Regions from separate parts of the Homo sapiens genome. Here region 2 is linked to region 1. Evidence: fine-mapped expression QTL. Tissue or cell type: subcutaneous fat. Region 1 holds a variant in brackets; the other region holds the start of a gene. All regions are shown on one strand. Distances are from middle to middle.

The links. PIP is the estimated chance that this variant, and not a neighbour inherited with it, causes the effect.
Region 2: SLC5A4 starts here. The variant in region 1 is fine-mapped to the expression of SLC5A4 in subcutaneous fat (GTEx, PIP 0.94).

What each region holds. Positions count from the first base shown.
Region 1 is chr22:32,310,530-32,315,529 of GRCh38, reverse strand. It overlaps a transcript of SLC5A4 not described here. Among named protein-coding and RNA genes, the nearest start is that of RFPL3, 45 kb to the left of the region's middle. The variant A/G (reference allele first, on the strand shown) is at 2,424.
Region 2 is chr22:32,252,389-32,257,388 of GRCh38, reverse strand. SLC5A4 (solute carrier family 5 member 4) reads left to right here and starts at 2,042. Exons shown (of 15, transcript NM_014227.3): 1 at 2,042-2,194; 2 at 3,176-3,247. The coding sequence starts at 2,060. All of the region lies in intron 2 of SLC5A4-AS1 (SLC5A4 antisense RNA 1), which reads right to left.

The sequences.
Region 1 (5,000 bases):
TTATTTTCTCCCTACTGTGAACAATATCAAAATTAGAATATTTCTACTTTCCCTCTTCTTGTCTCCCTTCCATCAAGTTATTTTAGTTGATTATTTTTTGTTTACCTTGATGCCTCTAATTTTACTTAGACTTCTAAGCAATAATTTAGACCTCCAACTATATATGAATATGACATAGTTTACTTGTATTACCTCTCTCCTTCTCACCTCCACCCCTCCTACTTTTTATTATTTATGCCAGTTCTGTTTTGTTTCATTCTTCTCTGTGATGGTCATAATCTTTAGATTGGCTTTAATAGTCCTGCAGTTACACAAATTCTGTGCTCATTGCTGGCACTCTTGGCAGTGCTCCATTTACAACTTGACCCCTGATTTCTCTTCATTTGCATTTGTTATGCTTCTGCTCATCCTTTTTATGAATTGTGGTAGAATGCACATAACATATAACCATTTTAACCATTTTTAAGTATACAGTTCAGGGGCATTAAGTACCTTCTCACTGTAGGGCAACTGATATGGTTTGGCTGTGGCTGTACCCAAAGCTCATCTTGAATTGTAACTCCCACAATTCCCATGTGTCATGGGAGGAACCCAGTGGGAGGTAATTGAATCATGGGGGCAAGTCTTTCCCATGCTGTTTTCATGATAGTGAATAAATTTCATGAGGTCTGATGGGAATTTTCCTGCACAAGCTCGCTCACTCTCTCTGTCCCTTTGCCTGCCACCATCCACATAAGACGTGACTTGCTCCTCCTTGCCTTTCACCATGATTGTGAGGCCTCCCCAGCCATGTGGAACTGTAAGTCCAGTTAAGCCTCTTTCTTTTGTAAATTGCTTGGGTATGTCTTTATCAGCAGCATGAAAATGGATTAATACAGCAGCCATCACTGCCATCTATCCACAGAACTTTTAAAAAAATCATCTGCCCATCCTTTTACATTAAACTTTTCTGAATCATTCTTGATTTGCCTAAGGGTGTCCTTAATTTTTTTAAGAAGGGGTCATGGGAACTATAATTCAAAAATATGTTCAACATGTTTTTCTGTTGACTTTATATTTGAAAGATGGTTCATTGGGCTTTAAATTCTTGGTTCATTCATTTATTTGATAAACATTATTAAGCCCCTACAGTATGCCAGTTACTGTCCTAGGCCCTGGCAATGCAGCAATGTGTAAAACACACAATCACCTTAACCCTCTTGTAGCTAACTTTCTATGTGGGGAAGACAAACAATAAATTATTCAAGTAAGTACAATAGGTGGTATGCTGGATAGAGGTGTGTGCTATGGAGAAAAAAAAGTCGGTGATGGAGAGTACCTGGCTTTGTTCTGTGAAGCTGAGGAGATGGCCCCACGGAATCTCTCACCCTTAGCCCCTGTACACATTCCCACTGATGCAAAGAGTGGAGAGTAGGTTCTCCTTCTTGGCGTATCTCTCACTCTGGGGAGGTGGGCTTTGCTGGCTTTGTCGGAGCCACTCCCTTGACTTCTCCATTTGCCCAAAAAACATGTAGTTTGGTTGAAGATGGTTTATCAGTTAAGAACTGTCACCAGTTGCAATTTATGCAAGTAAAGGAAATTTGACTGCAGTGGTGTGGAGGGGGCAGTCCAGGGCTGCCACCAGAACCCAGTTTCTCCCTGCCTTCTACTCCACCTGTGTTAGTGAGCATCCTTCATTCTCATGCATGCAAGATAGTTCATCTTCCCCTGGATTTATGTCCCCTTCCCAATAGACTCCCACTTACATGACATTGGCCAGACTGGGTCATGTGACCACCCCTGCTTGCAAGGGAGTCTGGGAAGGTAAGTAGTTGTGGCTGGGCAATTGCTCTTGTAATAGACACAGGGCAGTGGGGTTCATGCTGCCTGCCACAGATGGAGTTTGTATTTCTTTTCCTCATTGTCTTGTTTGCAACTTGACTCTGCCATTCAAAGCTATAAGTGCCCAGCAGACCTGTTTCCACACTGTAGATCTTGTTCCACTGCTCTCCTGGCTCTTCCCTATTCCAGGAGCATCTTGGTATCTTCTCTATAGCTTTGTATGACATGGTCATGGTCATATCTTAGTGTCATTCCAAAATACAGGATCGTTTTTGTCAGTATGAATGGTATCTGTATCTGTGTTTAATATTTAGTTTGTTATAGCAAGGGTGACAGTATAATTTATCATCCAAATCAGAATACTTTTGAGGGTAAAAGGGGAACAACATTAAAAATTATGTCAGAACAACAAGTGTCAACTGAGACTGTCCCAAGCCATGACATATAATTACCCTAGTAACTGCTGAGGTCAATGCACACTGTTGCATTTTATAAATTGATCTGATGTCTTACAGGTTGACTATTATACCTCTATGTATGCACTCTCCATTCTACTAATTAACCTGTTGATTCTATTAAATTTTCTATGTAAGTTATCCACA[A/G]TTAACTGTAATTTTGGTTCTTCTATTCCAGTCCTAGTCTATGCTTTTTTTTCTTGCCTTATTGCATGAGCCAGAGCTCTAGTACTATATGGAGCTATAATGATAGCGACATTTTTGTCTCGCTTCCAGTCTTAAAGTCACATGGTTCACAACGTTCAGAAGACAAAACCCATGTGTTCAGAGGAAACCTGGATTCTTCTGGCACTGAGGCCAGAGAGAAATGTCCCCAGTGAGTCCCCATTGAGGAGACACCATGTGATATTTTTTTTCCTTGTATTTCCTCCAGAAAACCCTTTTGCTGTGCCTCAGGATGGGGGAGATGAGATCTGAAATACCCAGTGCAGCCTCCGAGAAGGACAACTTCTACAGAGATGCCAGGGACAGCCGAGGTGGTAGAGAAGGGAATGCTGCCTGTGCCCAAAGCCCCCTTCTGCGGACTTCTAAGATTACGAGCAAACTCAGGGGTAGGGGCTGGGGGTGCAGGGGAGGGGATTCTGAGCCACCTGTCCACAAGCGATAGTCCTGTTTTGGGCTGGTGGCTTCTGAGAGGTGACTCATTGTGGCCTCAGGATGACCAAGACAAAGCAACTCTGGCTGATTCCAGCCAGGAGGATTGAGGCCTGTGAGTTATACCTGTGGTTGAAAACCGAAGCTTCCCTTGCCCCTGCTCCCTCCAATAGCGGCCCCTTGGGGCTATTTGTGTCAGAATATTGAATGTGCGTGTGTGTGTGTGTGTGTGTGCGCGCGCGCGTGTGATTTGGGGTGTTCTTGTTTGGTTGGTTGGTTTTTATTGGGGCTTCCCCCCTCAAGTTCTCTGATGGGCGCGGGTTACCTTCTGGCTGGGGGTTCTCATCCGTGTCAATGTTCAGGCTGCAAGCTTCTTGCTAAGCACAGGGTACAGCCCCTCTGTGTCTCAGGGAGCACTGGGGATTTGAAAATGCCAGTCAGGGTTGGTTCTTACAGAATTCATTCCTGTAACAAAAATACTCAGGGACGCATCTCAGGCTGACCACAGGGCAGGTACCAAGTTAAGTGTTTTCATGCACTCTCCCTCTCACCACGTGGGAGGCAGGTATGATTAACCCCCTGCAGAAAAAGCTGCAGAAAAAGCTCACAGTGGGGAAGGGGGGTGCCCAGGCGCCACATGGCCAGGAGGAGACCAACCCCTCGTTTGACCTCAGGGGTGCAGGAACCCAAAGTCCAGGCTCCAACTCCCTGGACATGACGTGATCCCCAGCCAGGGCACACCCTGCACAATGCCAGGAGCATCTCCTTGATGCCTCCACAGGCTGTCGCCCTGAGTTCTCCACCATCACCGCCGAGAGCGCTGATCCACTCAGCACATTCTGGCTAAGCACCTGCTGTGCGCCAGGCCCCATGCTGGGCAGTGATGGGGACAGAAGATGAGTCAGACCTCATCTCTGCCCCTGGGGAGCCTCCCATCTGGTGGGAGACACAGACACATGGATCTTTGCTGGGCAGGGTAACGAGGCTATGGAAACCCAGAGAGGAGGGTTCTAGAAATCCACCCGCTTTGAATTGGGACTTCCACATAAGCCTAGATGCCCGTAACATCCACCCACAGAGCTAATCACCTCCACTCCTGCCCCGGGGCACCTATGAGATGGATGGCATCACCTAAATGATCACAAACATCTCCAAAGGCCACGCTGCCAGTGTAGACACACTCATTCCATGGGTGTTAGTGATACCAAATCTCCCCCAGTTCTTAGCTCAGGAGGCCCTGCTTAATAAACATGTGTGTCCTCTGACCCAGTTTCCTCATTTCATCAGACCTAGTGTTCTCACACTGACTGCCCATCCATTCACCAGACACAACAGTGAGCAAGGCAGGTCCCTGCTCACTGTGCTGGCTTTCTAGCTGGGGCGGGAATACAGTGAAGGTGGCAAGGGCGGCGAGTGTTCTGCCGGGAACTCAGTTCGAGGGACAAGTGAGTGAGACCCTCGTGGACCTGGGGTGGTCTGGGAAGGCCTTATTGAGCAGATGATTGAAGGCCAGATTTGAATGACACACAGGACCGAGTAATGGGCGTTAAAGATAGGAAAAGAGCATTCCAGGCAGAAGGAACAGCTAGTGCAAAGGCCCTGTGGCAGGCACAGGCTTGGTGGTTTCAAGGAAGCATAAGAAAGCCAGGTGGCTGGGACCCAGAGGGAAGGCAGGAGATGAGGGCAAGAGTGCCCAGCCCTGGGCTCCACTGTGAGTCACACTGTGCAAACAATGCCCTGCGTTTGGAAAAGCAGAACAAACTTGCTAGGGCATAAAGCATCCTCCATTCTCCCTGGCTCTTCATCCTCTCAACAGCCCCATGAAGAAGGGGCTCTCCCCATTTTATGGATGAGAAGACAGACTCAGCCGGGTCAAGTGGCTTGCCCAGGGTCACACAGGTCAGCTGTGGAAGACCCAGGCCCCTGGCCTCAGTCTTTGGGTCCAGCTGTCTCCTCCAGGCAGTGTTGCCAGTGTCCAGGCATATGGCTTGGCAGAGGCAAAGTGGGAGAACCTGTGCTGGGGGGTCTCAATTAGAGAAAGGCATGGCTTCCTCTCCCCTGACATGAGCA
Region 2 (5,000 bases), 58 kb after region 1:
AATGAGACCCTGTCTCTGAGAAATAAAAAGGAAATTCTACAATTCAACAGCAACAAAAATACAACATAAGGCTATTCTGGGTACACTGCCAATGAGGTAGTCCTGCTCCACAAGGAGCAGTGTAAAAAAGAATACAACATAATTTTTAAATGGATGAAGAAGTTGAATATATCTCTCTCCAAGAAGATGCACAAATGGCTATAAGCACATGAAAAAATCAACACTACTAGTGATTGTGTTAGAAGTGTAAATCAAAACTATATTGTGATACCCACTTGATACCTACTAGCCTGTCTATAATTAAAACATAAATGACAAGTATTGAAGAGGATATGGAGAAATTAACTCTCCTATGCACTGTGGAAAGAATGTAAAATAGTGCAGCTGCTGTGAACAACAGTTTGGCAGTTCTACAAAAAGTTAAACACAGAATTATCACATGCAATTCCACTTCTACATATAGACTCAAAAGAATTGAAAGTAGGGATTCAAACAGATCCTTGCACACCAGTGTTCTCAGCAGCATTATTTATAATAGCCAAGTATAGAAAGAACCTGAATGCCCATCAACAGTTGAATGGATAAACAAAATGTGGTATATATGAGTATTGGAATATTATTCAGCCTTAAAAAGGAAGGAAATTCTGATACATGCTACAATATGGATGAACCTTGAAAATGTCATACTAAGTGAAATAAACCAAAGAGGAAAATATTGTATGATTTCATTTGTATGAGGTACCTAGAATAGGCAAATTTATATAGTAAGAAAGAATAACAGAGGTTACCAGGGCCTGGAGAGAGGGAGGGATGGGGAGTTAGTTTTTAGTGGGTACATACTTCTGTTTGGAGATGATGAAAAAGTTCTGGAAATGGATAGTGGTAATGGCTGCATAACACTGTAAATGTACTTAATGCCAATGAATTGTACACTTAAAAGGGATTAAAATGGTAAATTTTATGCTATGTATGCTTTGCCACAATAAAAAATGAAGTATAAAAGAAGAATTTCTGGGCTTTCCGTTTTTTCATGTGTGTTTTTGGTTTTGTTTTTTTGTTGTTGTTTTTTTTGTTTGTTTTTGAGACAGGATCTTGCTCAGTTGCCCAGGCTAGAGTGCAGCGGCGTGATCATGGCTCACTATAGCTTTGACCTCCCAGTCACAGGTGATCCTCCCTCTTCAGCCTCCCAAGTAGCTGGGACCATACGTGTGCATCACCACACTCAGCTAATTTTTATAGAGACAAAGACTCCCTATGTTGCCCAAGCTGGTCTTGAACTCCTGGCCTCAAGTGATGCTCTCTCCTTGGCCTCCCAAAGTGCTGGGATTACAGGTGTCAGCCACCGCATAGGCTTTACTTCTAACTTCTTCTTGGCTGTAGTCCAGGAGTCTTGTTTCCTGAGTCCTCATGATCCCCATCACATGCTTCCAGGTTGATTCACTCTTTGTACAACCCTCTGACCCAGCGCTCTCCACAGCTCTGCCCTCAACTCACCACATATGGTGCTTGAAGAGCCACTTCCTTTCCTATACAGGCCACCAATGTCTTTTTGTGGCACATGAAACCCACTTCAGAGAAATGTGGGACTTTGGAATCCACGAAAGGCATAATTCACTTCACTGTCAAGGGATATAGCTCATTGGTCAGAAACTGTATCTGTTCTCTGAAGGACCATTGCATTCGGTCCCTCCTGGCTGGTTTCTGGTACCTTCTAGTCTGTCCTTCTCCCCTCCTTGTCTGTCTTCATTTCTCTCAAATCCCCCCTCCACCTGGGCAAATCTCTTTAAAGACCCTGTCTTTGCACTCAGAGAACGCCCCATGCTCCACCTCAAATTCTCCCCTCATTTCTGGCCCTGCATCCCTCATTCTCACACTCTACCTAGGCTAGCACTCACTGGTGGAGGGCTGGGGTGCCACAGCTTTGGAGAAGAGGTTTAAAGGTCTCCATATCCAGGAGCTGGCTCTGATATCTCGCCCCACCTGCCTGAGGCTGATCATTAACCCAGAACTTATATAAAGATGGCTCATGCGTGGAATGGGTATAGCACTGCCTGCAGCCATGGCCAGTACGGTTAGCCCCAGCACCATAGCTGAGACCCCAGAGCCACCTCCATTGTCTGACCACATCCGAAATGCTGCTGACATCTCAGTCATTGTCATCTATTTTCTGGTGGTGATGGCTGTTGGGCTGTGGGTAGGTGGAATCCCAGTGGCTTTTAGGGTGGGCACAAGGTTTAGGAGGGGGTATCTTAAGGGGGGAAGGGGTGTGGTTGTGACAAAGCTTTTCACAAATGTCATTGTGTTATCAGAATCATTTTCTTGTGTGTTGCATAAATAACGCTTACAATGAACTAATGTATTCTCCTAATAACCCCATCGTGTGCACACAGCCAGCACCGGGACCTTCAGATTTACTATGCATCCCCAACACCTGGCATAATGGACAAAGAGTGTATTTTTATTATCGCATTTCTTTCGCTTTCTTTTGTTGTTTGCTCACTTTCTGATTTAGTGAGTTGGACTCTTCATTTATGTTGAATTTTTTTATTTTAATAAATTTGAGACTGCAAATTTTTTTTTTTTTTGAGACGGAGTCTTGCTCTGTCGTCCAGGCTGGAGTGCAGTGGCGCTTGCTTGGCTCACTGCAAGCTCCGCCTCCTGGGTTCACGCCATTCTCCTGCCTCAGCCTCCCAAGTAGCTGGGACTACAGGCATGCGCCACCACGCCCGGCTAACTTTTTGTATTTTTAGTAGAGACGGGGTTTCACCATGTTGGCCAGGATGGTCTCGATCTCTTGACCTTGTGATCCACCCGCCTCGGCCCTCCAAAGTGCTGGAATTACAGGCGTGAGCCACCGTGCCCGGCCGAGACTGCAAATTTTATTGCAAGCATGGCTCAATGATACCTCACATGGTTTTCATAAGTGAGAATAATCAGAGCAGTTAAGATAGAAGTTAAGGATTATGATTTTTTTAAGTTCTTCCAGCCCTGGGTTTTTACAAAGCGACTGTTTTTGAAGTCCTTTAAAATTTGATGCTATAGAACACTTTCCAGCGAAATGTTTCTCTCTGTAGGAGTGCTGAAGTCACCCCTCTCAGCACCCTGGCCAGAGCCTCTGGGGTGTCTGGGTGCACTTGCTGGGGCTTGACCCTCACCTGTCTTCCCTTCTGCTCAGGCGATGCTGAAGACCAACCGAGGTACTATAGGAGGCTTCTTCCTCGCTGGTCGTGATATGGCCTGGTGGCCGGTAAGTGGATCGAAGTTTTCTGGAGATAAATTTCCTGTGTGTGTGCTTAAAACTGAATGTAGGCTGGGTGCGGTGTCTCACGCCTGTAATCCCAGCACTTTGGGAGGCCAAGGCTGGCAGATCATCTGAGGTCAGGAGTTCGAGACCAGCCTGACTAACATGGTGAAACCATCTCTACTAAAAATACAAAAATTAGCTGGACGTGGTGGTGTGTATGCCTGTAATCCCAGCTACTCAGGAGGCTGAGGCAGGATAATCACTTGAACCTGGGAGGCAGAGGTTGCAGTGAGCCTAGATCACACCACTGCACTCCAGCCTGGGCAACAAGAATGAAACTCCATCTCAAAAAAAAAAAAGTGAATGTAGACAACATTGGGAATGTTGATCATTTCTGATGTACATTGGTTGCCTACTCGCTGGGGCTCCTTTCCTAAATCCCCGACTTCATGGCTCCTCTCTGTAATTCCAGGACATTACAATATGTCACCTATTATGACAGCCGGTTCAGTCTGGCACTGAAGGACCCCAGCTCAGCCCCACCTTATATTCTTTTCTTCTGCTCCTTATCAAGAGTCTTCTCCTGGCTTCTTACAAGCTCTGCGCATTCCTGCTTTGTTGCCAGTCCTGAGCTGATGCTGGCCCTCTTGTTAGGATTGGCCTCCCCTTGTCTGCTGTCCTCTTTCAATGCCTCACCTCAGCCCTTTCTCATCTGAGGAGCCTCCCGGCTCTCTCCATGGGTCCCTATGTCCCATGCAGTTATTGGTTGTGTTCCCTGTGATGGTGCTAATGCTGATGCCTCTTGATTCTTGCCCAGTGGGTGTTCTTGTGGGGTTTTGATGTGTGACCCCCTCAGCCAGGGTCCCACTGCAGCAGAGGCTGTATCTTCCCCTCTGCACCTGGAGAGTGTCAGCCCAGCATCACATTATACAGTGGGTGCTTAGCAAATGCTTCCTTCACAGATCTGACTCATTTTCTAAATGGTATGAGGGGAAGTGGAGATGGGCAACTGTCCTGGCTGGGGTGACTGAAGCAGAACAACTGGAAGTTTGAAATGAATTTTATTTGGGACATCCAATCAGACATTGCATTTTTAGGACTGTTTAGTGAAACATGCAAGGAGGCTCAAGCGATCTTGAAGCCAAAAACCAGCTCAATCCCATCCTCTGGCCCCATGTAGCTGAGCAGAAAAAGTGATTTTACAGAGGCCTTAAAAAGTGGGAAGAGCCACACCCCAATTCTCTTCTGCTAGGACTGGTGCTCATCTACGTCCACTCAAGAGACCTCTCTTGGTCTCTGGGTCTTTAGAACAGCAGACACTGTAATGGCGAGGGGATGAATGAAAAGAGTGTCCTGTGGCTGGGAGGATGGAGAGAAACTCCCTCCTAGCCAGCTTGGGGTCTTTGCATATGATTAAAGGGAGAAGAGCTGATGGGAGATCTGGCAGTGCTTGGCCAAGGACAGGCTCAACTCAGAGCATTTTAGTAGATTGACCAATGCTCCCCCAAGACAGGGGCCAACGAGCTTTTCTGTAAAAGGCCAGATTGTAAATACTTTAGAGTTTTCTAGACATATAGTCTATTGCAGCCACAGAACCCCGCTGTTGTAGGACAAAAAGCAGCCCAAGTCCATATGGAAAACCAATGAGCACGGCTGTGTTCCAGACAATGAAATTTGAATCATACAATTTCACAAGTTTACAATTTCACATTTCACAAAATATTATGCTTACTTAGATTGTTTACCATTATTTAAC